Linked DNA regions of Homo sapiens. The protein of the gene in region 3 purifies or fractionates together with the protein of the main gene of each other region. This does not show direct contact. Each region holds a gene or a part of one and is shown on either strand. Other genes may lie near its edges.

The links.
Region 1: the proteins of CD226 (region 3) and TTYH3 purify together in Homo sapiens (co-immunoprecipitation; 2 studies listed by BioGRID and IntAct, with this or other methods). This does not show direct contact.
Region 2: the proteins of CD226 (region 3) and WASHC5 purify together in Homo sapiens (affinity purification with mass spectrometry; one large-scale study listed by BioGRID and IntAct). This does not show direct contact.
Region 4: the proteins of CD226 (region 3) and MAOB purify together in Homo sapiens (co-immunoprecipitation; 2 studies listed by BioGRID and IntAct, with this or other methods). This does not show direct contact.
Region 5: the proteins of CD226 (region 3) and DYM purify together in Homo sapiens (co-immunoprecipitation; one large-scale study listed by IntAct). This does not show direct contact.
Region 6: the proteins of CD226 (region 3) and TMED1 purify together in Homo sapiens (co-immunoprecipitation; 2 studies listed by BioGRID and IntAct, with this or other methods). This does not show direct contact.
Region 7: the proteins of CD226 (region 3) and ATP2B3 purify together in Homo sapiens (affinity purification with mass spectrometry; one large-scale study listed by BioGRID and IntAct). This does not show direct contact.

What each region holds. Positions count from the first base shown.
Region 1 is NC_000007.14:2,634,986-2,638,485, reverse strand, and holds part of TTYH3 (protein tweety homolog 3), read right to left. Parts: intron 1-3,500. UniProt on the Homo sapiens protein: Calcium-independent, swelling-dependent volume-regulated anion channel (VRAC-swell) which plays a pivotal role in the process of regulatory volume decrease (RVD) in the brain through the efflux of anions like chloride and organic osmolytes like glutamate.
Region 2 is NC_000008.11:125,074,793-125,078,292, reverse strand, and holds part of WASHC5 (WASH complex subunit 5), read left to right. Parts: intron 1-1,792; coding exon 1,793-1,945; intron 1,946-3,181; coding exon 3,182-3,295; intron 3,296-3,500. UniProt on the Homo sapiens protein: Acts as a component of the WASH core complex that functions as a nucleation-promoting factor (NPF) at the surface of endosomes, where it recruits and activates the Arp2/3 complex to induce actin polymerization, playing a key role in the fission of tubules that serve as transport intermediates during endosome sorting.
Region 3 is NC_000018.10:69,864,374-69,867,873, forward strand, and holds part of CD226 (CD226 antigen isoform a precursor), read right to left. Parts: exon of another isoform or gene 3,374-3,500; intron 3,039-3,373; coding exon 2,984-3,038; intron 67-2,983; coding exon 1-66.
Region 4 is NC_000023.11:43,875,951-43,879,450, forward strand, and holds part of MAOB (amine oxidase [flavin-containing] B), read right to left. Parts: intron 1-3,500.
Region 5 is NC_000018.10:49,457,846-49,462,074, forward strand, and holds the start of DYM (dymeclin), read right to left. Parts: upstream 2,801-4,229; 5' UTR 2,553-2,800; intron 1-2,552. UniProt on the Homo sapiens protein: Necessary for correct organization of Golgi apparatus. Involved in bone development.
Region 6 is NC_000019.10:10,833,413-10,837,457, forward strand, and holds the start of TMED1 (transmembrane emp24 domain-containing protein 1 precursor), read right to left. Parts: upstream 2,801-4,045; 5' UTR 2,780-2,800; coding exon 2,597-2,779; intron 2,329-2,596; exon of another isoform or gene 2,191-2,328; intron 2,180-2,190; exon of another isoform or gene 2,120-2,179; coding exon of another isoform or gene 2,051-2,119; intron 1,942-2,050; coding exon 1,844-1,941; intron 1,706-1,843; coding exon 1,522-1,705; intron 1-1,521. UniProt on the Homo sapiens protein: Potential role in vesicular protein trafficking, mainly in the early secretory pathway.
Region 7 is NC_000023.11:153,559,142-153,562,641, forward strand, and holds part of ATP2B3 (plasma membrane calcium-transporting ATPase 3), read left to right. Parts: intron 1-587; coding exon 588-801; intron 802-1,534; coding exon 1,535-1,746; intron 1,747-2,993; coding exon 2,994-3,101; intron 3,102-3,500. UniProt on the Homo sapiens protein: ATP-driven Ca(2+) ion pump involved in the maintenance of basal intracellular Ca(2+) levels at the presynaptic terminals. Uses ATP as an energy source to transport cytosolic Ca(2+) ions across the plasma membrane to the extracellular compartment.

The DNA.
Region 1 (3,500 bases), on a different chromosome or scaffold from region 3:
AGGCCAGAGAGGCAGCCCTGGGGCTGAGGCTCAGAGCCGCTCCTGCCCGTCTCCCCACAGGCCGGGCCCCTTTCCTGCACCCTGTAGCCGGGGGACCCCAGCTCTCCCGCTGCCCACGCCCGCCCTCCCCCTCGTGCAAGGAACAGACACCAAAGAGCTGCAGCAAGCGTGTCTATTTTGGTCCCCGTGCTCCGACACATCTCCCAGCGTGACACCCGGAAAATCCCCTGCTCTTCCCACTTGTCTGCAGCCCTCTGCACCAGCTGCCTGGGGACCGGGCCCCAGGCCTCAGACCCAGCCAGGAGCCGCCAGACTGGAGCCCCATCTCCGGGATCAGCTCCCTACCAGGGAGAGGCAGCCCAGAGGGCACGGCCGAACCCCAGACACAGGGCTGCAGGGCTCAGAGCTGGGTGCACCCCAGAACTTCAGGAGTGCTCTTCCACGATGGCCAGGAACCCAGCCAGCGTGCACAGGCCCGAGGGGGGCAGAACGGCTAGGGGCACTGTGGCTGGTACCCTCCTCAGAGGCCGAAGGCACTGGCACTCTGTGGGTGGCCCGGCTTCCTCCCACACCCTCGGCCAACATGGGCCTGACCCAGCCACAGTGGGTGCTGCCCCACAGGACTCAGGTCTCAGCCAGCCTCCCAAGACTGTGAGAAGCCCCCTCGGATGGTGTGAGGCCCAGCACAGGGCCTGGGTGGGCTCCCTGCAGAACATAGCGGCAGGCCCGGGTACAGGAGGCCCTCCTGTGACCCTCCCACACCCACCATCCACCCGCTGTCACATGCCAATTCCCCGGTGGCCACGTCAGGCACTTCCCATGTCCTTGACCCCAGGCCCCTGGCTGCAGATTCGGTTCCTCTTCTCTAGCCGAGGCCTCAGCAGAACTGACGGTGGGGCAGGTGGGGGAAGTGTAGATGCCCCTGAGCCCCCTAAACCTGCACCCCTGGGTTCACGAACTGTGCTGACGCTGTATCCACTGGGACGGACGTGGCTGGGCTGCAGCTGGAACCCGTGCCCAGTCTTCCGGCCCCCCATGCTGGCCGGCCCCCGTTTCTGCTTATGTCGGGGACACAGTGTCCACCTCCCAGGGCCACTGGGTGGCTCTCCAAGAAAAGTGCTTTAGAAACGAGCAGCACAAGCATCCGGGGAGAGCCGCCGTGGCCTGGGGAACCAAGCTGCAGGGCTCCCCGCTCCCCCAGAGCCTGACCAAGAGCCCCCGGCCGGGGGTCAGAGCGGCTGACACTGCAAATCCCTTAGACGGGGTTGGCTGGCAGGGCCTGCCCAGGGGTCAGGGGAGGAAGAAGGGTCACCATGGAGATGCCCAGAAGAGGGGTCCTAGAGCTGGCCCTCGAGTCTCAGGCGAGTGGGGGGCAGGCGGGGGTCCCGCACACACAGACTGGAGTGGCCCCTGGTGATGCTAGAACTGGGGAGATCAGGGAGCCAGCACCCTGAGCAAGAATAACCACCCCAACATCCACACCTACAAAAAGCCGTGAAGACCTCGGGGACTTCTAGAGGGTCCCAGGCTGCTGCACTCCAAGGAAGGGGCTTGAGAACCCCAGAGTCTCCTGGGGACAGAGGTGGCCAGAGTACCCTCAGAACCACAAAAACCAGGAGCCCAGATATAGGAACCCTTGATGCGGGCAGCGGCCGGGCCAAGGGTGGCCTGACACCCACCCCAAGCAGGTCCAGGGCCCACAGCTTCACACCCCCTGGCCAAAAGGCAAGCTCAGCCAATCGGAGTCTCCCCAGGAATGCAGACACCGGCCAAGATGGAAATCCTGAGTGGACTGGGACCAGCCATCAGGGGCTTCCTGCCCACCTCCACCCCCCAATGCAGGGTCCCATTCGCTGTACACCCCCAGCCTAGTTCATCAGCTCCTGTCCACTCAGGGATTGCTCCTGAAGCTTCCACCCAGCTCCCCGGGGGCCTCCGTGTCTGGCCCGCTTCTGTCATCTGTAGGTACAGAATCCTGCCTGGCACCGTGGGACGCTGGACAAGCATCTGGAACACGGTCCAAAGTACGAGACATGTCAAAAGCAATAGGATTCCAGTTCTCAGGGACACCCACCCTACAGCTCTATGCTCTTGGACTGAACCCAGCTGGAGGGACGCTTCTGTCTCACGCTCTTCCCTTTTCCCCAAATGTTCCATGAACGTGTACTGCTTTCGTAAATGACAAGACAGGCGACAGGCGACCAACACTGCCGTTTTAACCAGAACTCATTTCCTTCTGATGAGTGGGGAGGATGATAACAGGCCAGCCCTGCCCCAGGGAACTGCCCCCCAGGCTGCAACTGGGCACAAGGCTGACCTCACCTTGTGGCGGCACAGACAGAGGTGTTGTGCTCTTAGGAGCCAGGCTCCCAACTCTGCTAGGAGAACACTGGCCCTACTCCCAGAGCTCAGATCCCCTCTGAGTGGCCATCCAGCCTGGGCTGGCACAGTGCCTGGAACAGAGGGCTCACCAGTTCCTGAGGCAGCACATTCCCCGTGCGCAGTCAGACCAGAGCGACCCTCTGGCACGTGGGGCTGAGGCCTCTCCCCGAGGCTCAAGCTTCTCTCTGCCTCAGGGCCTTTGCACCTGCCGTTCCCCCAGCCCAGAAGCTCTTCCCCAAGGTCTCTGTATGGTGACCTCAGTCTTATCATTAAGGTCTCAACAGAAACATCTGGGCATTCCAGGCTCTAGTGGAAAACACGTCCCCCATGCTAGGCAAACTGAGGCAGGGCCCACTATCTGCCCTGGAAGGCAGATGTCCCAGTGAAACCATCACCTGCCAGGGCCAGCACGGCCCATGGAGGAGTCAGAAATGAGCAGGCAAATCCTAACCCTCTGATTGTCGGCAGCCGGGCTTGCAACCTCCATGGCAAGCCAGTTAACACCACCTCCTGCAGGAAGCCTTCCCTGACCACTGGGCTCCCACCGCCTGGGTTCGCAACCCACCACAGTCCGTAGCTGTTGTCCTGCATCTGGCCTGCCCTGAGCTGGAGGAGACAGCCCGAGAGAGAGGCTGAGGTCAGTGGGCATGAACTTGATCCCTGCCTGAGGACACGGGGTCACAAAGGGCTGGTGGGAGCTGAGCAGGCAGGCCTCCCCCGAATAAAGCCCAGGACAGTGTCTGGACCACCCAAGGTCACGCAGGAAGAAGCGACAGAGCGAGGGTGCAGGCCTGCGATGCTCTAGCTGAAGAGAAGGCTCTGCTGCCCTCAAGGGCCCCTGCCCGGGGCAGGACAGCCAGACCCACTTGACATTCAGGACTCACTATGCAGCACTGACTGGCCCCGGGCCACGCCAGAGGCCTCAGGCCCAGCCCTGCCAGCTCAGCTGCAGGGCCACCAGGGAGTCTCAGGCCTCCTGTGGGCCTCCAAATCCCTCCTGTGAACAACAGCCCCCCATTCACTCAGATGCTCAGGCAGCACGGGAGCCCCTCTCGACAGTCACTGGCTGGGGAGCTGCACAGAGCCGACCCCAGATGCCCCTCCACCCCCTGCCCTCT
Region 2 (3,500 bases), on a different chromosome or scaffold from region 3:
GGCAGCAAGGTCACAACAGGTGACAAAAGGAAGGTAAGAGGAGTGCCAGGAAAGGAGGCAGCCTGAGCAAGGCTGTGAAGATCATGCAGCATTTGAAAATCGCCCCACTCCCCTTGCCAGTATGTGTAGTAGTCACTTCCTTTTAAAAAACGCCAAATAAAATTACCATTTGACTTCATTCTTCTGAAGAAAACATAATTTTAGATGTTATATATTTAAATATTTGTAAAAATTATAATTAGGGAGTAAAGAGGCCTGTGATAACTGTGGATATCATTTATCACAGAATGAACCTGATCTGTGCAGTTCTTTAGGTAGCTTGTTAGTTTTTTGTGTGAATATGTTAAGTATAAATAAGAGGGTTTTTGTTGGTGGTGTTGTTGTTGTTGTTTTAAGACAATTCAAAATCAGAAGCTACCCACAGATGCCAGGTCTCCATAATAATTGTTGCCATTCATTGAGAATTCAGTCCAAACCAGCCACAAAGGAGGTTTTGTTCCCATACCATTTTCTCTGTTCCTCACAATAGCCCTGTAAAGTAGATGGCATTATCCCCCATGTTGCTGTTGAGAAGAATAAGACTTGGAGAGCTTAAATAATTTCCTTAAATTCCTGTTACTAAGTAGCAGAACCATAACTTGAATTTGGTCTGTGTCAATTCAGAGCATCTCATTCCTGATTGCCTCTCATTCCACGTCCTTCTGAAGGCAATGTGCTTCCATTTCCTCCTTGCCCCATGATCTTTATTAGCACAAGGGTTAAGCTGTGATTGTGCTGTGTGTCCACCCCACTCTCTGTCCTGCACCTCCCCCATCCCTGGTCATGGGTGATGGAACAGATTCTGTCTCCAGGTAATTTGGAATTGGGCCTGAGAAACAGTTTCTGGATTGGAGTTTATCCACAACATGCAAAATTGGGAGTTTGTGGGCAGCCTCATTCTGCCATGTATATGGCGAGTAGCCTGGAGGGAGAGAAAAGGTGGGCCAACACATCAAGGGGAGAAAGAGCGAAGGCATTCCGGTTCCCAGCCCCAGCCGCTTCCTGTGGCCTGGCCACATACCTGCCTGCAGGTTTCATGTGACATGGCTATGTCTGCCCTTATAACAATTTCTCTCCTTTTTGCTTGTGGTAGCTCAAGGTGATATGTGCTTTGTGCATCCAAAGATTTCTAGTACGTGAGGGGATGAACCCCTGGGGAACACCAACATTTAAAAGGCAGAAGATGAGGACTCAGCAAAGGAGATTGAGAAGAGAGAGTGGTATCTAGGAAACCAGAGAAGGAGAGATTTCATTCCTCAGAGAATTTAAGTGAGAGTCTTAAAAAGAAGCCGTTGAATTGGATGGTTGTGAGGTCATGAGCGACCGTAGGGAATTCCACTGGGATGATGATGGAGGTCGAATTTCAGTGAGTTGAATAATAAACAGAAAGTGAGAAAATAGCAACAGTGAGTGGAGCCTGTCAGTTCTAAGGGTTGTCTCCAACAGGAAAGATACAAAAATGGAGAAGTGGTGGGAGACACAGGAATGGGACTTTTTTTTTTTTTTTTTAAGAAAAGACTTAGAATTGCAGCGGTCAAGGGCTGGAAGAAGAGAATATTATGGTGTTAGGAATAAGAAGGAAGACCTTGGCAAGCAATGGTACAGTCTGAGAAGGGCTTCCAGTGTCCAGGATCCTGAAAGGTGATGGGCTTTGGAAAAACTGATGTGTCTTACAACCAGAGAGTTTAATTTGAGCATGTCTACGTGCAAATGTTGCCAACAGCTTTCTCGGGGTGTCGTCTTGACATTGCAGGTCTCAGCGTATCCTTTGCCGGAGCATCGCAGCACAGCCCTGGCAAACCAAGCTGCCATGCTGTACGTGATTCTCTACTTTGAGCCTTCCATCCTTCACACCCATCAAGCAAAAATGAGAGAGATAGTGGATAAATACTTTCCAGATAATTGGGCAAGTATTGCTAATTTTTTTCCTCTACAGTAAATGTGTTAGAGAACTAACTTCCCATTCTTTTGGCCTTTAACCCACAGGTTGTAATGTTGTAAATAATGGGACATAACATCACTTAGGTAAACTTGCTCTAACTGTATTGAGAATTTTATAATTATAACATGAAGGAATAAATGAGTCAGTAAAACTTCCTGAAGAACCCACTAGTCTTTTTCTAAAATGGATACTCTCAAGATTAAATCATTTATTAAAATGTCTCTTGCTTTAGCTACTGAGATTACAACTAAGTTGTGTAAGAATTTATTTATTCTTTTCCATTTTCTGAATCTAAGATAGCCAAATTCATCTAATTTGTCACTTTGTGAATAGGAATTTCACTTTAATAATAAAGTTTTACCTATAAGCTAACTGTAATGGGGTTACTAAAGTTTATATTATTGCAAGGATATGCTTGTACCTTTGTAAGCATTGTTTCATTTAAAAATATTCTTATAGGAATAAAGCTTGCTTCATAATATATATGAAATGAAATATATGAAAACAAAGAGGCTTTAACAAAATGCAGGGAGTTGGATTATATTCGCATGTAGCAGATTTTGTTCTGCTTCTATATCGGCTGTTGAATCACATAAACTATCGTTATGAGGGGCCTTCAATTTATTGGTAGTATGAGAACAGCCTACATTAGGAAGTGGTGGTTCCTGGCCAACTGTGAATCATATTAGTGAGCTCAGAGTTGAGCAGCCAAGAGGAAAACACTGATAGTGTGGCTTCAGGTTCCTAAGTTTAATAAAGAAGTTTTGACCATGATACTATAATTAAAGACATATTTATTATTAAGAAAGACCAAAATCCAATTACATGAAACCTGTAAGATACACACCTGAAAAAATACCCTAGCACAGTGAAAATGAAGGGATTTTAAAAAAAGATATCCCAGGCAATTGCCAACCAATAAAACAACTGGTGAGAAAACATTAATATTACACAATAGAGAATTTCAAAAAGCAACGTTAATAGGTGTAAAGAGATCTTTATACCTATTAACGTGAATTAACAATCAGGAACACTTACTTAACAATCAGGAACACTTACCTATATATTTGGAAAATCTTGGTTTTTCATTGGAATGGAATTTAAACATGGAGTGGGTATTGCCTTCTATAACTTTAGTATTCAACCCTTTGCCTTGAAGTGAGTAGGAATTTAACAAATTCTGAATGTCTCCTCTTTCAGGTAATTAGTATTTACATGGGGATCACAGTTAATCTAGTAGATGCTTGGGAACCTTACAAAGCTGCAAAAACTGCTTTAAATAATACCCTGGACCTTTCAAATGTCAGAGAACAGGTAGGTTCTAATCTGGGGACATTCTCTGATAACTGCAGGCCTAGTTTATGAAGTAGCAAATAAGCTAAGTAGATTTCCCAAGGAATTTGGAAGATAATCACTTAGATAATTTAATGCAATGATTAATAAAAGGTGAATTTTATAGGTTAGAATAAGATAGGTAATTGTAGGTTTTGTTATATAGTATATGTAAATTGAAGATTAG
Region 3 (3,500 bases):
TGTATCATCCATGGATTGATTGGTAGGTTGACTGGTAGAGATGGGACTTCTATAGTTATTGGGTGCCTAGAAAGACAAACAGCAGAGAGTGTCAATAATTCACTGCATTTCAACAACTAATGAAGACATTCAAAACATACCTCTCATAAATGCAGGCATGATATGGGACAAGTTTCCATTATAATTAATTTGATAAAACATTCTCATTGTATTGAACTTCTGTTGGAAATCATATTCTTGACTGAGATGCAACAGAAATCTAGTCTAGATTAATACTTGCTGTATTGTGCTATGAATTACCTGTTTCAATGTAGAACTCCCTCTCCCAATGTTAAGCTATTTTGATAAGAACAATTACTATCATTTTTATATGGAAATTCTAACACAGTGTCTGAACTTTAAAAAATAAGCAACTTAACATATAAAAAGTTAACAAAACTGACATCAAGATGATATTGTATAATCATTAATCTTCTCTACCGTAATCAAGTCACTTTGACCACATATGTATGTATGTAACAGAAAATATGCAGGTGTGAAAAAAGAAAGACAAATTAAGAGACAAAAGAAACTAGAGAAAGGTCTTTTGATGAGTAATTTAAAAATTTAGATTGACCTTAGTGTTGTTGGTTTTTTTGAGTCAGAGTCTCGCTCTGTTGCCCAAGCTGGAGTGCAGTGGCGCAATCTAGGCTCACTGCAACCCCCACCTCCCAGGTTCAAGCAATTCTGCCTCAGCCTCACGAGTAGCTGGGATTACAGGCAAGCACCATCACGCCCAGCTAATTTTTGTATTTTTAGTAGAGATGGAGTTTCGCCATGTTGGCCAGGCTGGTCTCAAACTCCTGACCTCAGACGATCCGCCCACCTCAGCCTCCCAAAGTGTTGGGATTACAAGCGTGAGCCACCATGACCAGCCAGATGTTAGTGTTTTTAAGAAGAAAGCAAAATGAAAATTCAAGTGCCATGATTACTTATAGAGGTTATCTTTTAAAAAAGAGAATGAAGTAGTTCTAATGTCTTTTTTTGACAGTCCAACCTATTAACTCTTTAATAATCCTTCAAAATATTATTCTACAAAAACCTGAAAAAGTTGGATACCTAATATAGACCGTTGCAAAGCTCCCTTTCATTCCCCAAATTCACAACAATAAATGTGACTAGACTGGCATGAGTAGACAAAGGCTAAGGATGAAGAAGGGAATCCCAAAATTGTGTATGACAGAGCACCAATTTATTTCTTGCTGAAGTGGCTGATGAAATAAAGCAAGGTTTCTTGATTCTACAGTTGGCATCAAGAAGCAATCCATGTTTTTTGCCAACAAACAAAAAAAATATTTTTTGCAAAAGTAACTACTTAATAAATAAAAAGTTAAACTGATAAATTATGAAGGCATCTGATGAACACATGTTGGATTGTCAGAACCTTTTTAGTACTTGGCTTGTGGCCATGTAGAATTCCACTGCGAATAGTTAAAATGAAAAGAAATTTATATACTTTTGGCTAGGAATTGGGGAATTTTTTGTCTTAGTTTGGGCTGCTGTAACAAAATACTGTAGACTGGGTTGCTTAAACCACAAACACTTATTCCTCACAGTTCTGGAGGCTGGGAAGTCCAAGATTAAGAAAATATTTTCCTAACTTGAGAAAAAAAAAAGAGTCCAGTGAGGGCCTGCGGGCCTGTTTCTTGGTTTGCAGACAACTGTCTTCTCAGTATCCTCACATTGCAAAGAGCAGAAAGAGGAAGCAAGCTCTTCTGTCCTTAAAAAGGCACTGATCCCATTCACGAAGACGCCACCCTCATGATCTAATTACATCCCAAAGTCTCCACCTCCTAATATCATCGCATTAGGCATTAGGATTTCAACATATGAATGTTGGGAAGACATAAATGTTCAATCCATAGCAACTTTTTTTGTGAAATTTCATAAACAGGATGCTATGCATTAAAGGAAGAGATTTGAAGTATAGTGGGGATAACGAGCATGAAAATACATATCCCTCTTATCTGCAAACCCAGAAGGAAGTTTCTAGTCTTTTAGTTAAACACTAAGGGGCAGCAGCAAGGCAGAATAAGGAAGAAACTTTTACAGCTCATCAAACTCCTGCAGCCCATAAGGAAATAAAAAAGTTCTTTGGTTGTATAAGTATACACTAATAACTTACCTCCAAAGATAATAATAATAATGAATATCATTACGTTCTTCTATGTGCTTGCTACGCTTCTGGTTCTTTTATGCAATTTAACCATCACAATAACCTTATGACATAAAAATATTATGTCCTCTCCTGGGTTGGATACTGTCCCCTGCAAATTCATGTCCTCCTCAGAACCTCATAATGTGACCTCATTTGAAAATAGGATCCTTGTAATTAGCTAAGCTCAAACAACGCTGTGCTGGAGAGGGGTGGGCCTTTAAGTCCAAGATAACTGGGGTCTCCATAAGAAAAGAAGGAAGGCAGACACACACACACAGCTGAGAACAGTGATGAGAGGGGCAGAGATTGGAGCGATGTGTCTACCAGCCAAGGATCGACAGCTCCACTAGAAGCTGGATAGAAGCATGGGATGGATTCTCATCCCACGAAGAAACCAGTACTTCTGACACTGTTTCTTGTACTTCAACCCTCCAGAATTATGGAAGAATAGATTTCTGTTGTTTTAAGCCACCCCGTTTTGGTAATTTGTCACAGCAGCCCTAGAAAAGGAACAAAGATTTAGGGAAGGCATAGTGTTGATTGTTATTACGCCAGGGTAATTGCTCCTTTATTTATATTCATATAAAAAACTTAGTTTCAAAGGGTATTAAAAATAGAATAGTTCAGAAAATAACTTTCTCCAAATAGCTGATATTTAAATTACAGGCAACTGCATGGTCAGGTTACTGAAAGGACAATAAAATATAAGATTGCTAACTGCAAAAGAGACTGACTTTGCATCTGTAAATTACAAAAGAAAAAAATGACAGTTCCGTATAAACTTACCTTCTGTGTATCCCAGGACTCTGTAAATAGATCTCTTCTCTCTCTCCTTCTCCTTCTGGAATGCATATTCAATAAAGGATATAAAGATATGATATTCCAGTACTAATATTATTTCGAAGACTCTATACCTCACTGTACCCCTAGCCCACATGCACCTTCTAATATGTTGAAGTAGCTTTATGCACATTTATCCAAAATTCTGTTACCCTACAGTTTTTTTCATTTTCCCTGTCTTCTCCAAATTGCTCCCAGATGGTGAGGGCAACTAAATGGATATCTAACCACTGTGCATTAGTAATTAATCTCAGTGATTTTACTAAAGAATGATTTATAGTGACTTATTACATAAATGACTTATAGCTTTCTCCAAATAACCTCACATTTAAGACATTTTCCACAATTAAAATTTATTTTAAATGCCAGCAGTGTAACTTCTTGGATGACAATATAATGAAGCTTTATAAAATCTTTTGGGTGTTATTCTAAATCACTCGTATGGATTATTTTATTAAATCAC
Region 4 (3,500 bases), on a different chromosome or scaffold from region 3:
ATTTATTAATTATTTATTTATTTATTGAGACAGAGTCTCACTCTGTCTCCCAGGCTGGAGGGCAGTGGCACAATCTCGGCTCACTGTAACCTCTGCCTCCCAGGTTCAGGTGATTCTCCTGCCTCAGCCACCCAAGTAGCTTCGGACTGGAGGCATGCGCCACCACGCCTGGCTAATTTTTGTATTTTTAGTAGAGACGGAGTTTCACCATGTTGTTCAGGCTGGTCTTGAACTCCTGACCTCAAGCAATCCACCCACCTTGGCCTCCCAAAGTGCTGGGATTACAGGTGTGAGCCACCATGCCTGGCCAATAACCACACTTATTAATAACAAAAATTCCCTCAAATATTTTTAAGAAGAAAAGCCACTGATATAAATGAAAGATGCAGTCACATTCCATCATGGTGATTTATACTTTGAGGAATTTTTTTGGAGAGGGAAGAGTATGGTGTTTCTGGAAACGTGAGTTGCAGAAATAATACATATTTGTTGTGAAAATCTGTAAATTACAGAAAATGGAAAAAAATGAAAATCATCTGTAATTGAACTCCACAAAAAAACTAACCTGTTACTATTGCCACCCCTATTGCCCAAGCTCCACATTTAGGGGAACAGATGGGATTTGAGCCCAAGTCCCAGGCCTCCAATGCCCTTTGTGTTTAACAGCTGTGTTATCTTCCTTCCTCTTCGTATACAAATGTTTTGCATTTATAGTTTCTGACATATTTATCTCTTAAAATACATATTAAAATAATTAGAGTTAAAGCCTTTTGTTTAAATTAAGCTGCTGACTTTCTCACATCATCTGTGTTAGTAAATCATATACAAGCCAAGAAAACAGGGCTTGGAAGCAGAATCTCTGTTACAGGCTAATGTTCTCCGAGTGTGCATGCACGCGTGTGTGTGTGTGTCAGTGCATTCAAATGCACAGCCACAAACCACTTCCTCAGCCCAAAGTTTGACAGTGAGGAAGCTGGCACACTGGCACTTCAGACCACTAGTTGCTAGTGGACATTTTGTCAGCCTGATGAACAATAATCATCAATATCTATTGTGTGCCTGCCAAATGCCAAGCCACATTCCAAGCACTCTACATGTATTTTCTCCTTTAATTCTCTCAGCCACTTTGTGAAATAGATACCATTATTATCCCCATTTCCAAATGAGAAAAGTAAGGCATGGGAAGGTTAACTAACTATTTTGCCCAAGGTGGCACAGCTAGTTAGTGGTGGAACCAGGGTAGACACCATGCTCTTAACCCCTATGCTCCACCACTGCCCCTGAATGTATGGCAGGGAGCCTAGACCTCAATACCCAGTCAGAGGAGAAGAAAATTGTGACCATTGTCAATGCCAAGCCAAGCCTTAAACCTGCCCTGGTGACTTCTGAGGACACATGGGGGCCTAGAAATTGTGACTCTAGTGGCAACTGGCTCTACTCACACAGCCCACCAACCGGCCCCAACACTGTGTCCCAGGGGTGTTAGAATCAAGCAGAAAGAACAAGGCTTTGTCATTCTTAACCTTCACAGAGCTTTTGTCATTCTAATCAAGCTCCTAACACCTTGTACAGCATGTAGATAACGCTTGATATGCTACCTTTTTATCATTTATTATTAAATAATATTATTAAATAAATAATATCATTTGTTATTAATGCATTTATCTTCTATTGTAGTTAAGACAGGAATCAAATGGCTGAAATGAAGACCAGATCAGAATTGGAATAATAGCCAGGTTGAGGTGAGGCTGAAGTACAGATCTAAGACTTCCAGAATTTCTCCTGAAGCGGAACCCAGTGGGTCTCAGAGCCCAAAGTGAGCCTGAGTTCCTCAGGCCCCTTGCGGGGGGATAAAGGAATTGGCTGAGCCAGGATGAGGCTGAAGTCAGGCGAGTCTCTCCTGATGCCCACATGTATACATGGCGTCCTGTTGCCACCTTATCTATGCTGCACATCCAGAAAAATTATTGGTTGGTGAAAAGAAGTGATTACATAGAAATGCCTGTTTTTGCTCCCTTAGATTGAAAAACTCTACAGGACAAACAAGGATATATTTCCAAAAAGGTAGAGTAAGGCACCTATAAGCCAAAGCCGAAGTGATCACTGTTTATGGTCCTACATGTGCATTCTTTCCAATCCTTGAAACAAGCCGGCCAGGAAGGCATTATGAGTCTCATTTTAAAGATGAGGCAGCTGAAATACAGGGAGGTTATGTACCTTTTAAGGTTCCACATAGGTAAGCATAAGAAATGAGATTCATAACTAGTGTGTTTGACACTAAGCCTATTCTCCCCCTCCCAGTCTTTTTTTATAGGCAGTCTTTGTCTGTGGCCCACGCTGGAGTATAATGGCATGATCATAGCTCACTGCAGCCTCGAGCTCCTGGACTCAAGTGATCCTCCCACTTCAGCCTCCAGAGTAGCTGGGACTACAGGTGCACTCCTCTATACCCAGCCTTTGTGTGTGTGTGTGTGTGTGTGTGTGTGTGTGTGTGTGGAGACCATGTCTCATTACGTTGCCAGGGCTGGTCTCAAACTCCTGGGCTCAAGCAATCCTCCCGTCTCAACCTTCCAAGATAAATCGTATGTTCTTTTAATATTGCTGTATTACCTCTGTGTATTCTTTCCTTGACTAGGATATACAAATTTTCAGGCATATCTATATAATTATTATTTTTTAGGACATTCAAGTGGGTTACAGGAGCCCAGGGAAGTTCTCCATTTTTCTTCACCAAAGGTGAGAAAGAGGCTTTGCCATTAACATATGGGCCACATCTGCCCACCACACACCTCAACTCATAACCCCTTGTGAGCCATCTCTGACATTCCCTGCCAAAGCCAGTACCACTAGCCTGCAGCCAGGCTTGCTCTCCCTGCCACAAAGATCACCTGCCAGGTGTTGGTTACAATTTGGAAGTCTGGTTCCAACACTTCCAGGGATCTCAAACAAGTGCCTGCCACCCTCAAATGACCAAATCTCCTCTCCTAAGTCTGGCCAAAACTTTCTTGTTTCTGCTTCAAGTTGCCTTTTTTAGTTTTTATTTTGGGGATTGAACAAGAACTATTCCAGAATTGCAAAAGATAGTTTCCATGGTTCCACCCACCCAAACACTAAAACTGAGAGACGCGGGACAGATGCAACGTGCTGCTGTCCAGTTCCATGTGGGAGATGTCATTGCTCTGCCAAGTCTCTGGAGATGATCTGCCCCTTGGGTAAAAGAGATTTCAGTGCATACTCATTTATACACCATACACATTTCTAAAAAGTTAGTCTACAACTATCTTGGAACTTTTAAAACATCAAAAAAGAAAGTTATGTATTAACCAGCTATCCTCCCAGTATGTCTCTGTTTATCCCAAAGGGAGTGATTAAAATTTGCTGACAGCTTTAAAAATTATCAGGGAATTGCCAGAATGTCCCAAGTTTAATAATTAACAAAGCTTAGAACGCAGAGTCAAATCCAGAGACTTTTAAACATAAATCATTGTGTTGGTCACCTA
Region 5 (4,229 bases), about 20 Mb from region 3:
TGTGGTCAGAGACTTGAGGATGGAAGTATGATCAGAGAGATGCAACACTGGTGGCTTTGAAGACAGAGGAGGTACGCCACAAGCCAAGGAAAGTGGCAGCCTCTAGAAGCTGGAAGAGGCATAGATGCCCCCTAGAAACCTCCAGAGAAGAACACAGCCTTGTTGACAGCCAGTGAGACCCACTTTGACTTCTAACCTACAGAACTGTAAAATAATAAATGCATTGTTTTAAGCCACTAAATTTGTGGTAACATGTTACAGCAATCATAGAAAACTGATACATAACATTAAACAACTTCTAATAATATGTGAAATTATCTAGAAAAGCATAACCAAATTGCCCAAATATTTGGAGCAATATAAGAAAGAGCCATTTGTACATGTTGTAACATATTTCACTTCTATTTCTCTCCTGCCCTCCATTCATTAAAAAGCCTACCAAAGTGACAATTCTTCAAACTTTCTGTAGAAAAATGAGCCATATTAATAAAAAAAAAAGGAACAATCAGGATGGCAGGATCTAATGGAAAAATCAGGAGATAATTATGCCACATTTTTCAGAGTCAAACATAAAAGCGTTTGCACTGTTTATCCTCTTTGTATCAAATGGATTACCACACTTTTTTAAAGTACAGTAAATCTTTCTAGATATTAAAAACTATTAATTTTTATGTGTGATAATGGTATTCTGGGCCTATTAAAAAGAGCAGGCCAGGTGCAGTGGCTCACCCCTGTAATCCCAGCACTTTCAGAGGCTGAGGTGGGTGAAATGCCTGAACTCAGGAGTTCGTGACCAGCCTGAGCAACATGATGAGACCCCCGTCTCTACTAAAAATACAAAAAATTAGCCAGGCATGGTAGCACGTGCCTGTAATCCCAGCTACTCAGGAGGCTGAGGCAGGAGAATTGCTTGAACCCAGGAGGCAGACGTTGCCGTGAGCCGGGATCACGCCACTGTACTCCAGCCTGAATGACAGAGCGAGACTCTGCCTCCCACCACCACCAACAAAAAAAAGCAATTCAATCTTCTACAGATATATATTGAAATATTTACAGATGAAATTGAATGTCTATGATTTGCTTTAAAATAATTGTGAGTGGGGATAGGAATGCATAGGGACATAGATGAAATTAAATTGGCATGAGTTAACTGCTGAAGCTGGGTAATGGGTACATGGGAGTACCCTTTATTATTTCACTGTGTGAACTTTTCTATGGTTAAAAGGTGCAAAAACATAAAAACTCCTTGACCTATATGTCGTAACAACACAGACTTCTTAATAGCTGAATCTCCTTCCTATTAACATTGCCCCAACTCAGTTCTCTGCCATTTAATCCACTTGCGACTGATAGTTTCATCAATTATTCCAACTCATTTTGCCCTATGTACTCAGTTTATGAGCTTAAGGCAGACACCTAACCTCTAAAAGACTAGTTCTTCATTTACAGAATGGGAATATTCATACTTGTCCGGTCTATCTCCAAGTTGCTGAGAGGATTATCTAAAATAAAACTTCAAAGCAGGATAATCACTCCAGAAATCCATATATTCATAAATTTCATCCTCTGCAACAACCATTCACCCATTCCTATAGATTCTCTTCCCTTCCACCTCGTTCTTCTCTTGAGCCCTCAACTCATCAGCCTAAGCACCTGAGTTCCTCTGGTGGACGCTACATTCCTCTCCACGGCCTCCACCCTCCAGGTTTTCATCCTTCAGCACATCACCCTTGCTCTACACACCCCTCTCTCCAACTTCCCCTCTCCTCTTTCAAGGAACTCACTCCATCTGTGCCCCCTAATCAGTCTATCCTGGGTACCCGCTTTGCTGGCCGATTACAATCATCCCATCACTTCTCTACCCCTGTTCAGTAGAGAACAGCTTTATCCAATCAGCTTTACCACACCAATACCCTCAAACCCCACTACTGCCCCCAGTTCACAAACACCCACCCTTTCACTTTTCAGTCAAAACACAATTGCTCAGGCAAATCCACGGCGACTGAAAGTAGATCAATAGTGTAGGGGAGAGAAGGAGGAGTGACTGCTAATGGGTACGAGCTTCTTTGGGGCGGGGGGGGCGGTGATTAAAAATGCTCTGGAGTTAAGGGTGGTGATGGCTGCTCAACCCTGTGAATATACTAAAAACCACTGAGTTGTACTTTTAAAGGGTTAATTTTCTGATATGTTAGTTATACCTCGATAAACTATGAATGTAAAAAGAAGAAAGAAAAACCCAACAGCTATTGCTCACCCTGCCCATCACACGCCCATTTGTCAGACCAACACCGCCCCATCTCCGGAAGCACCGACTTGGCCTTCGGTATCCCCCAACTCCCAACAGCGGACTCGGACAGAGGTCCGTCCGCTGTCAGCACAGCCCCTCCGGGTGGCCCAGGCGCCCGCGGGCAGGGAAGGGAGGGTCCCTTCGCCGCCGCCCCGGGGCGCTGGCCGGGTTGCGGAGGGTGGCCCCTGACCCCCTCTGACAGGAGGCCGGGGACAGCCAGGCTTTCGGGCCCGGCCGCGCTGAGGGGGGCGGCGCTACAGCCCACCTGTCTCAGCCGGCTGGGGGATCTGCTCCAGCTCCACGGACCCGCGGACGGATGGGAGGGTGGCAGAGGGGTCAGGAGAAGTCGCTGTCGCCGCCGCAGCCCAGGTGGCGCACACCGGCTCAGGCCTCCATGTTTCCACGTCTCAGCGGGTACAGATCCGGCTCCGGTCCGGCCTGCAGCTCGGCCCCGGCTCGGCTCCAGCCCGGGCCGCGTCGGTGCGGAGGCCAGGAGGCGGCGAGAGAAGAGGGAAGCGACCGAGAACGCGGCTAGGGACCAGACCCCCAGGCGCGCGCGCCAGCCAGGTGGTCACGTGGCACGCGGCGCGCGCGGGCTTCTGGAAACTGTAGTCCTTTGGGTGTTATTCGTGCCTCCGCCCTCCTAGTACCTCCTGGGCTACCGCAAAGCCACGTGGCGAAATCGAGAAGCGCAAAAACAGCCGTGCGCGGTGGCTCACGCCTGTAATCCCAGCACTTTAGGAGGCCGAGGTGGACGGATCACGAGGTCAGGAGATCGAGACCATCCTGGCCAGCATGGTGAAACCCCGTCTCCACTAAAAATACAAAAAGTAGCTGTTTGAGACAGGATAATCGTTTGAACCCGAGAGGCGGAGATTGCAGTGAGTCAAAAAGTAGCTGTCTGAGGCAGGAGAATCGTTTGAACCCGAGAGGCGGAGATTGCAGTGAGTCGAGATCGGGCCACTGCACTCCAGCCTTGCGACAGAGCTCGACTCTTCTCAAAAAAAAAAAAAGAGAGAGAGAGAGAAGCGCAAAAACCTCACCTGCCGGGTGCTAGAGTCAACCTCACCTGCCAGGTGCTAGAGTCCTCGCTCATGCTACACCGCTCGTTCTGGCGGCTTAACCTTATTAAGGCCTCTGTTAATTGCAGCTGAATAACCATCCCAAAGTCAAGCAATATTGTGTGGGATTCTGGAGAATTGAGAAATAGCAAAATAATTTTTGATGGAGGCAGCTGGCAGGGCTAGCCCTGCCTGCAAAGTTGTCGGAAAGGACAGGTCCCACGGGAAAGAGTAGCAATATGAGATAGTGCCAAAACTATGGAATTTGAAGTCAAATGAGCTGAGGTTTCCACACTGACGTCTTTGAGCAATTACTTCACCTCTCTCAGCCAGTTTCCTCACCTAAAATATATGCATGATGATGATTCTGCCATTACAGGAAATGTTGACATGACTGTAGTAATAACAATTCACATTATGGATTATTTTCTATTTGCCATGCACTATTATTTCGCAAAATGACCCTATGGAACAGATAGCACCGTTATTCCCATTATATAGTCAATATGTGCCAGTGTACTCTGTAAAGTACTATACAAATATTAGGTATTCTTTTCTAGCATAGACTGCCAGTAAATTCACTGAGCTTGCAGAATTATGACAGGAAAACATATTAAAACCCAAAGTAGACTGGGCCCTGTGGCTTATGCCTGTAATCCCAATACTTTGGGAGGCTAAGGTGGGAGGATCACTTGAGCCCAGGAGTTCGGAAGGACCAGCCTGAGCAACATAGCGATACACTGTCTCAACAAAAAATACAAAAATTAGCTGGGAGTGGTTGGCACACCCTCGGTCCCGGCTACTCGGGAGGCTGATGTGGGAAAATCGCTTGAGCCCGGGAGGTTGAGGCTTCAGGGAGCCATAATCTCACCATTGCACTC
Region 6 (4,045 bases), on a different chromosome or scaffold from region 3:
GAGCCTGTTTCCTCTTCTATAAGCTTCCAAATTGCTGTGAACATTTAATGCCTAAATAAATGTACAAGGATGAGCATGGTGGCTCATGCCTATAATCCTAGCACTTTGGAAGGCTGAGGTGGGAGGATCGCTTGAGCCCAGGAGTTTGAGACCAGCCTGGGCTACATGGCAAAACCCCATCTCTACAAAAAATTAGCCAGGGGTGGTGATGTGCAACTGCAATCCCAGCTACTCAGGAGGCTGAAGCAAGATTACACCTGTAATCCAAACACAGGAGGATCACTTAAACCCAGGAGTTCAAGACCACCCTAGCCAACATGGTGAAACCTCGTCTCTACAGAAAACAAAAAATTAGGCATGGTGGTGCACACCCGTAGTCCCACTGAGGTGGCAGGATTGCTTGAGCCCAGGAGTTTGAGGCTGCAATGGGCTATGATCACACCACTGCACTCCAGCCTGAGTGACACAGCAAGACCTTGCCTCGCCGTAGCTCACACCTGTAATCCCAGAGCTTTGGGAAGCCAAGGCAGACAGATCCCCTGAGGTCAGGAGTTCGAGACCAGCCTGGCCAACATGGTGAAACCCTGTCTCTACTAAAAATACAAAAATTAGTCAGTCAGGCGTGGTGGCACAGCTATTCAGGAGGCTGAGGCAGGAGAATTGGCTGAACCTGGGAGGCAGAGGTTGCAGTGAGCTGAGATCGTGCCACTGCAATCCAGCCTGGGTGACCAAGAGAGATCTGTTAGAAAATAAATAAATAAGTAGTTAATTAAAATACTAATAAATGTACAGAACATATTTGCTTGTGGTTAAGAGCATAGTTGCTGAAACCAGCATGGGTTCAATACCAACTCTGCTAGTTGGTCTGTGTGGCCGTGAGTTGCTCAGCCATCTTGTATCTCACTTTCTCCACCTGTAAAATGGGGATGACTTGAGCACAGGGTCTGCTTCACAAGGTGGTTTGGAGATTTACGGTATGAGTTATTTATGATATGAGTTCCTTAAACCTTTACACCAGGGTTTATACCTAGAAATGAACTACTTTTTTTTTTTTTTTTTTTTTTGAGACGGAGTTTTGCTCTTATTGCCCAGGCTGGAGTGCAATGGTGCGATCTCGGCTCACTGCAACCTCTGCCTCCCAGGTTCAACTTCCACCTCCTGGGTTCAAGTCATTCTCTGGCCTCAGCCTCCTGAGTAGCTGGGATTACAGACGCCCGCCACCACACCCGGCTAATTTTTGTATTTTTAGTAGAGACGGGGTTTCACCATGTTGGCCAGGCTGGTCTCAAAACTCCTGACCTCAGGTGATCCACCCGCCTCAGCCTCCCAAAGTGCTGGGATTACAGGCGTGAGCCACCGTGCCCGGCCTGAAATGAACTACTTATTTTAAGAGCTGCTACTCTTACTATAATTCAGTTGGAGGGCACAACTACGGAGGGGAGGCTGGGTCAGCCCAAGGGGGGCACCCCAGGTGAATCCTAGAGATCTGGAAGGAGTGGCCCCAGCGCAGCCTGGACACACCTTGATGTCCTCCATTTTAACATCCAGCATCTCCTCGGGCTCCACAGCCTCTGCCCATCCTTCGACCTCCTCGTCATCCTGGAGGCTGTCAAAGATCAGTTCAAAGAACACCAGCTTCTCGGAGATGGTGCTGAAGGAGTTGTCAAAGCACAGCTTGTAGTCCCCGGCCTCCGTTGGCTCCACCCTGGGCAGACAGACACACAGACATGACCCAGGGTGGCCAGCCAGCCGACTCAGCGGGGCAGTCAGGGCGGTAACCTGAGGCCGCCTGGGAAGGGCAGGGCTGTAACTGAACCCAGGCAGGCATCAAGACTGAACTCACGTGTGTACCCCATCAGCCTTGCGGGACTCGCTGACCAACAGCACGCCCTGAGGGCTCTCCAGCGTGAAGTCCACGTCCAGTCCAGCACCTCCGATCACCTGGGGGGCAGGTAAGAGCGGGTGGAGGGCTAGCGGTAGGCCAAGGGCGCCTGCCGAAGAGGGCTACGGCTGAACCAACACTGATCAATACAGACCACCAAGGGCTTACCTGAACGGCGGCACACCCACACCCGCCCCAACCTGTCCCAGTGGCTGCGCCCCTTGCCTCCACCCTCATTGATATGACAGCTTGGGGTCCATACTTTCAGCTGACCACGCACCTACCAAAAGTACTTAATGGACGTTTACCTGACCACGCCCCTGGTTGGCTCCGCCTCCGAAAGAGGATAGGCCCAGCCTTTTTCCTTAGTCTAACCCCCGAGAAAGGCCTGTGTGGGCAACGCCCCCGCAGTTGACCTATCAGCACTATCGCCACGCCCACCAGCCAGAGTCCTGTCCTCTCAGAGGCTCCCTATACTTATCGATGGCCCCGCCCCCTCTGGATCTCTTACTCTAGCCCCGCCTGCTTCATTACTCCCTCCCCTTCCGCTCCCACACACCGTCCCCGCCCCATCTGTCCATCTCTTTCTAGCTCCGCCCCCGCGCTCCCAAGCACGGATTCCTCCCCCTTCCTCCTAAAGCGCGCCTCGCCTCGACCGCTTGGCCACGCCCCCTCTCCCTGACTCTGCTGGCCGCCCAGCCCGCGACCCTCTACCTGGTATTCGGTCTCGAGGCTTGCGTTGGCCGGCGCGGACTGGTAGAAACACTGCTTCCTCCCCGCCGGCAACAGGAACGTGAACTCACCGTCCTGGATTGGCGGGGGCCCCGCCCCTCCCACCTCCACTGGTGGCATTAGTAGCCACAAGGCCAGGGCTAGGGCCGCGCCGGCCGCCATCATCCGGGTCACCCTCTGGTCTGCAAAGGGGTCGCGGCTCCTTTAAGCGCTAGCCCTGCCCCGGTGCTACTCGGCGGAGCTCATTGGCAGTGGCTTCTGTATGTTGTCCGTAACCAGAGGTGCCAGGAGTGAAGGACCCCCCCACTAGAGGGCAGGCGGCCCGAATGAATGCCTGATGTGCCCAGAAACACTCAACCGTCTGGGAATATTTTTCTCAAAGGCTTCGGCTCTCTTCTCGGCCGCTGGTGGAGGAAAATTACAAAAATAAGTGCCATGATGGCGCATCTTTTGTAGGCAGTAGCTAAGACAACTAAAGTTACAGGCGGCAGGGTCCTTTTTAGTCACCTCCACGTGGTTTTCCCAGAGTGCGCCGCGCGTGACAACCTTTGGCGGGACCGACGTGGTGGAGTGGACCCAAAAATAGCGTCTAGGCGTGGCCCTGTACGCGACCCGTAGGGCTCGCCTATAAAAGGGCTGGGGCGGGGCGGAGATACCTGTGGCGTCGTGTTTTGCTTGCTCTGTGAGCGTGGTCCAGGTTCGACGCCTTTTGCGCCTTAGAGGCATCAGCGTATCAGTTTCCTCGTAAGTCGGGAGTGATGGAACGACCACCCTGTAGTGCGGCTGTGAGAATTGAGATGAGGCTTGGTTCATATTGAGTGCTCAGCTTTCCTGGCTTATAGACAGTGGAGGGGCGTGGCCCCACCATGCACCCCAAGGGTCTCAGACTCAAGGGCCAGCAGGTAAATAGAGCCATTACAGTAGCCTCGGGTCAGAAAAACGACAGCCCAGGTAGGAAGAGATAAGGACAGTGTGGGACTGGGAGCCACGTTGCCTGGTTCAGCTCCTGCCCCACCCATTACTTGAGGCATTCCCTCTGTTGAGCCTCAGTTTCCTCTTCTGCAAAATGGGGATAATAGGCCTACGCTACTGGGCTGTCTTTAGGATACGTGAAATGCTTGTTGAGTGCTTGCTTCCGCAGTGCGTGGGACATCACAGGCCCTCAGTAAATAATAATCTGTTATTTGGTTCCCGTCTAAACATAAACTGTGTACAGGGAGATGTTTAGTCTTCAAAGATAAACCCGGAAAAGGTTGGCAGGTGATGACAAAGATCCCTCAAATACAGCTGGCTGTTGTCAGCACTTTCCTGCATTTGGAGAATTTGGGGAAGTAGCTCTTTGTAATATCAGTTTGGTATTCCTTTTCACTCCAACTTTTTCTATCATTTACACTCACTGCTTGGACAATTTGAAGTAACAGTGGAGAACGG
Region 7 (3,500 bases), on a different chromosome or scaffold from region 3:
AACATTCTCATCACCCCAAAAGGACACCCAGACCCCGTGAGCAGTCACTCTCTACTCCCCAAACCCCAGCCCCTGGCACCCACTCATCTGCTTTCTCTCTCTATGGATTTGTCAGTTCTGGAAGTTTCCTATGAATGGAATCAGACAGTACGTGGCCTTGTGTGTCTGGCTTCTGTGAGGCTGATTTTTAACGAACAACTCAGAGGAGCTGAGAAGGAAGGTCCAGTTCAGAGTTTCTGCCTCCTCCTGCCCCTGAGGTGCAGGAGACAAGGAGAGCAGCCCTCACTCTGTTGCCCCAAATGGCAGACCCCATCGTCGGGCTGTTTTGTGGTCTGGGGTTTTTCACCTCCTGCGAGGGATTTGGAGCACACCTGCTGCCAGGTGAGAGAAGGGAGGCGGGCACGTGACAGCCCAAAGAAAACGCCCCACTAGCGTAAAGGCGATGTAGGGATGGAGATGTCTGTTTTCATGGGCATGAAATCCTGGTGATGTGGACCCCATGAGGAGCCCCCAGGAGCTACTGGGTTTCCACCCCCAACCTTCCCGGGCAGGCGGCCCATGGAAAGGTGACTGCCTCCTCTCCATAGGACTCTCCTCTCAAAGCCGTGCAGATGTTGTGGGTGAACTTGATCATGGACACATTTGCCTCTCTGGCCCTGGCGACGGAGCCACCCACAGAGTCGCTGCTGCTGCGGAAGCCGTACGGCCGCGACAAGCCCCTCATCTCCCGCACCATGATGAAGAACATTCTGGGCCACGCCGTGTACCAGCTCGCCATCATCTTCACCCTGCTGTTTGTCGGTAGGCTGGCCAGGGGCACCCGGGAGGACTTCAGGACACTGTTGCCACCACCTCGGGCTCAGATTCTGTCTGGTGTGTCTCCACCTGTGTCTCCGCACCCAGTACGGGGTGGGACGCTGCACTTCCTGACTGGACAGCACACAGGGGAAGGAGCAGATGGGCCAGGCTAGCAACCCTGCAGCCAGGCCTGCTGGTGGCCTACAGCTCTTTCGCAAGCCTCTCCTCCCAGGCCGCTGAGCAGCTGAGAAACAGTTCATGTCTTGACATCCTGCCCACGGCTGTGTAGCTGTGTAGAGTAGGCAGCTTCTACCCAGCCCCAGAGTGGCCACGGTAACCCTAGGAACAGAACAGCCCACATTTACCCTGTGAAGATTGCTCCTGTGGAGTGACTGGGGTGCCGTGCTGGAAGCTGTGAGGTGGGTGGGGGGTGACCGCAAGAGAGAGGAAGAGGAGGAGGGCGTCCGAGGAAAGCCAGCCTTAAGAACTTCCCTTCTTAATCTCTTCCTTCCTGCCCTCAGGCTCAGGGTCTGGCCCCTGGCCCAGAGGGGTCTCAGGACTCTGGTTGGTTGAGCCTGGGGTGGGTGTGGCTGCCTTGGGCCTTGGCCGTGAGCTGGAAGTGGCCATCCCCTGGGACAAGGGACCCATCTCGGGAGCTACACACCGAAGTCTCGCTCCTGAGTAATGCGTCATGCGCTGAGATGACTGTGCCTGAGTGGGGAATGTTGCTTTCCAGGGGAGCTCTTCTTCGACATCGACAGCGGGAGGAATGCGCCCCTGCACTCGCCACCCTCAGAGCACTACACCATCATCTTCAACACGTTCGTCATGATGCAGCTCTTTAACGAGATCAACGCCCGCAAGATCCACGGCGAGAGGAACGTGTTCGACGGCATCTTCAGCAACCCCATCTTCTGCACCATCGTTTTGGGCACTTTCGGGATTCAGGTAGGAGGGGCGGCTCCACTCTTGGCCTCTGCCACTTGCAAAAAGTGGAGGTGGTGGGCTTCAAGACCCCTCGTCCACCCCTAGTACTGGCCTCCCCACCTCCACTCCCAGAAGGAGCCCCACCCCACCTGGCTTTCCTGTAGCCCCCGTCCTCTCTGCATGTCGGAGAGGGCCTTCTTCATCTTCCAAACATTGCCGGCCTTGCCCTGGGTGAGCGCGCTGGCTTCCAGAAGGGTTTCGTGAGCCCTCATCGGAACGAAGTTTTCTCACAGATGCTGGAAGGAGTCCTCCCTGGCTCCCTCTAGGTCTGCCATTCCCATTTCTAGCACTTAATTCCTTGGCATGAGGCTGCCATAACTCCAGAAGTTTCTTTTGGAGATGACCTCTGTGCCCAGTGCTGACACACTAACCTCTGCTTCCCACAGTGCTGTGGACAGGCTGGTCAGCCCCACTGTCTAGGAGGGGCTAAGTGTTCTAAAATATAGTGTATTTGTAGAAAAATTGAGGTATAGTAAGGCCAAAAGGTCAAGAGACAGTTGCCACTGAAAGACAGTTTATGACTCAGAGACCCCAAGAGGAGGACACATGCCACACCATAGGGGCCCACATGGGAGAGCGCCAGGCAGGAGGTGGGGTGTGAGAGCTGTGGACAAGAGCCTTTGCTGTGGTTCCCTCGGGGAGGAGCAGGTGAGGCAGGGCTGGTAGGCTCAGGACTGGCTAGGTTGCGTCATTGCAGCGGTTCCAGGGCATACGGGTGCTCCCTGGCTGTCTGGTACCTGGTCCTGGGTAATGAGTGCAAGGGGATAGTGGCCCGGAATGTGACAGTCCAACAGAGGACGGGGTCAGTTTGCATTTGGACAGCTTGCCCCTGCAAATTGGATGCCTCCCGAGGAGGCAGGAGGCCAAGACAAGGTGACCTCGGCAGGTTCTAGGGTCCTCCAGAATGAGGCATGTCCAGCGTGCCCGCAGGGTGGGTGTCACAGCCTCCGTCTTGCTGAAAATAGGAGCATGGTCAGTGGAGCTGGGCCCCACTCCGAGGCTGGAGTCAGTAGGTGCCTGGCACCCAGGGGCGCTGGGGGCCATGCACTGCTCTGTCATCACGCCCCCGGCCTTGTGGTCCTCTCGCAAGGAGCAGCCCGTGCAACTGGGGGAACCAACCAGGGTGGCTGGGTCTTCAAGGGGTTGGAGGACAAGGGTGGCTCAGGAGCCGCGGCTGGACCTGCCTCTCTCCCACTTGCCCTTCGCAGATTGTCATCGTCCAGTTTGGCGGGAAGCCCTTCAGCTGCTCCCCACTATCCACAGAACAGTGGCTCTGGTGCCTGTTTGTTGGTGTTGGGGAGCTGGTCTGGGGACAGGTGAGTGACAGCCCTGCCCCTCATTTCAGACTGCCCTGCAGACAGCTTCTGTGATGGGCCCACTTGCCCTAACCCTGCTTCAGAGCCTTGGGGTCCTCACCCTAGGAAGCACACTGAGGGCTCAGGCCTGTGACACACCAGGACCCAGGGACAGGACGCAAGGGAAGGTGTCAGCAAAAGAATGCAAAGGAACATGGCTGGGATGTGACAGGGCCCAGGAAAACTGCCCGCAGCTCCCCTTTCTATGATAAGAGCCAAAAATTGCCCCTTCCAATTGGGTGGGTAGCTTGGGAAATCCCCACATATTTTAAATCAATCAAACAGCACCCTGATCAATAATCCATGGGGCGAAAAGAAAGTCTCCAGAGAAATTAGGAAATATTTTGACCTGATGGAAAG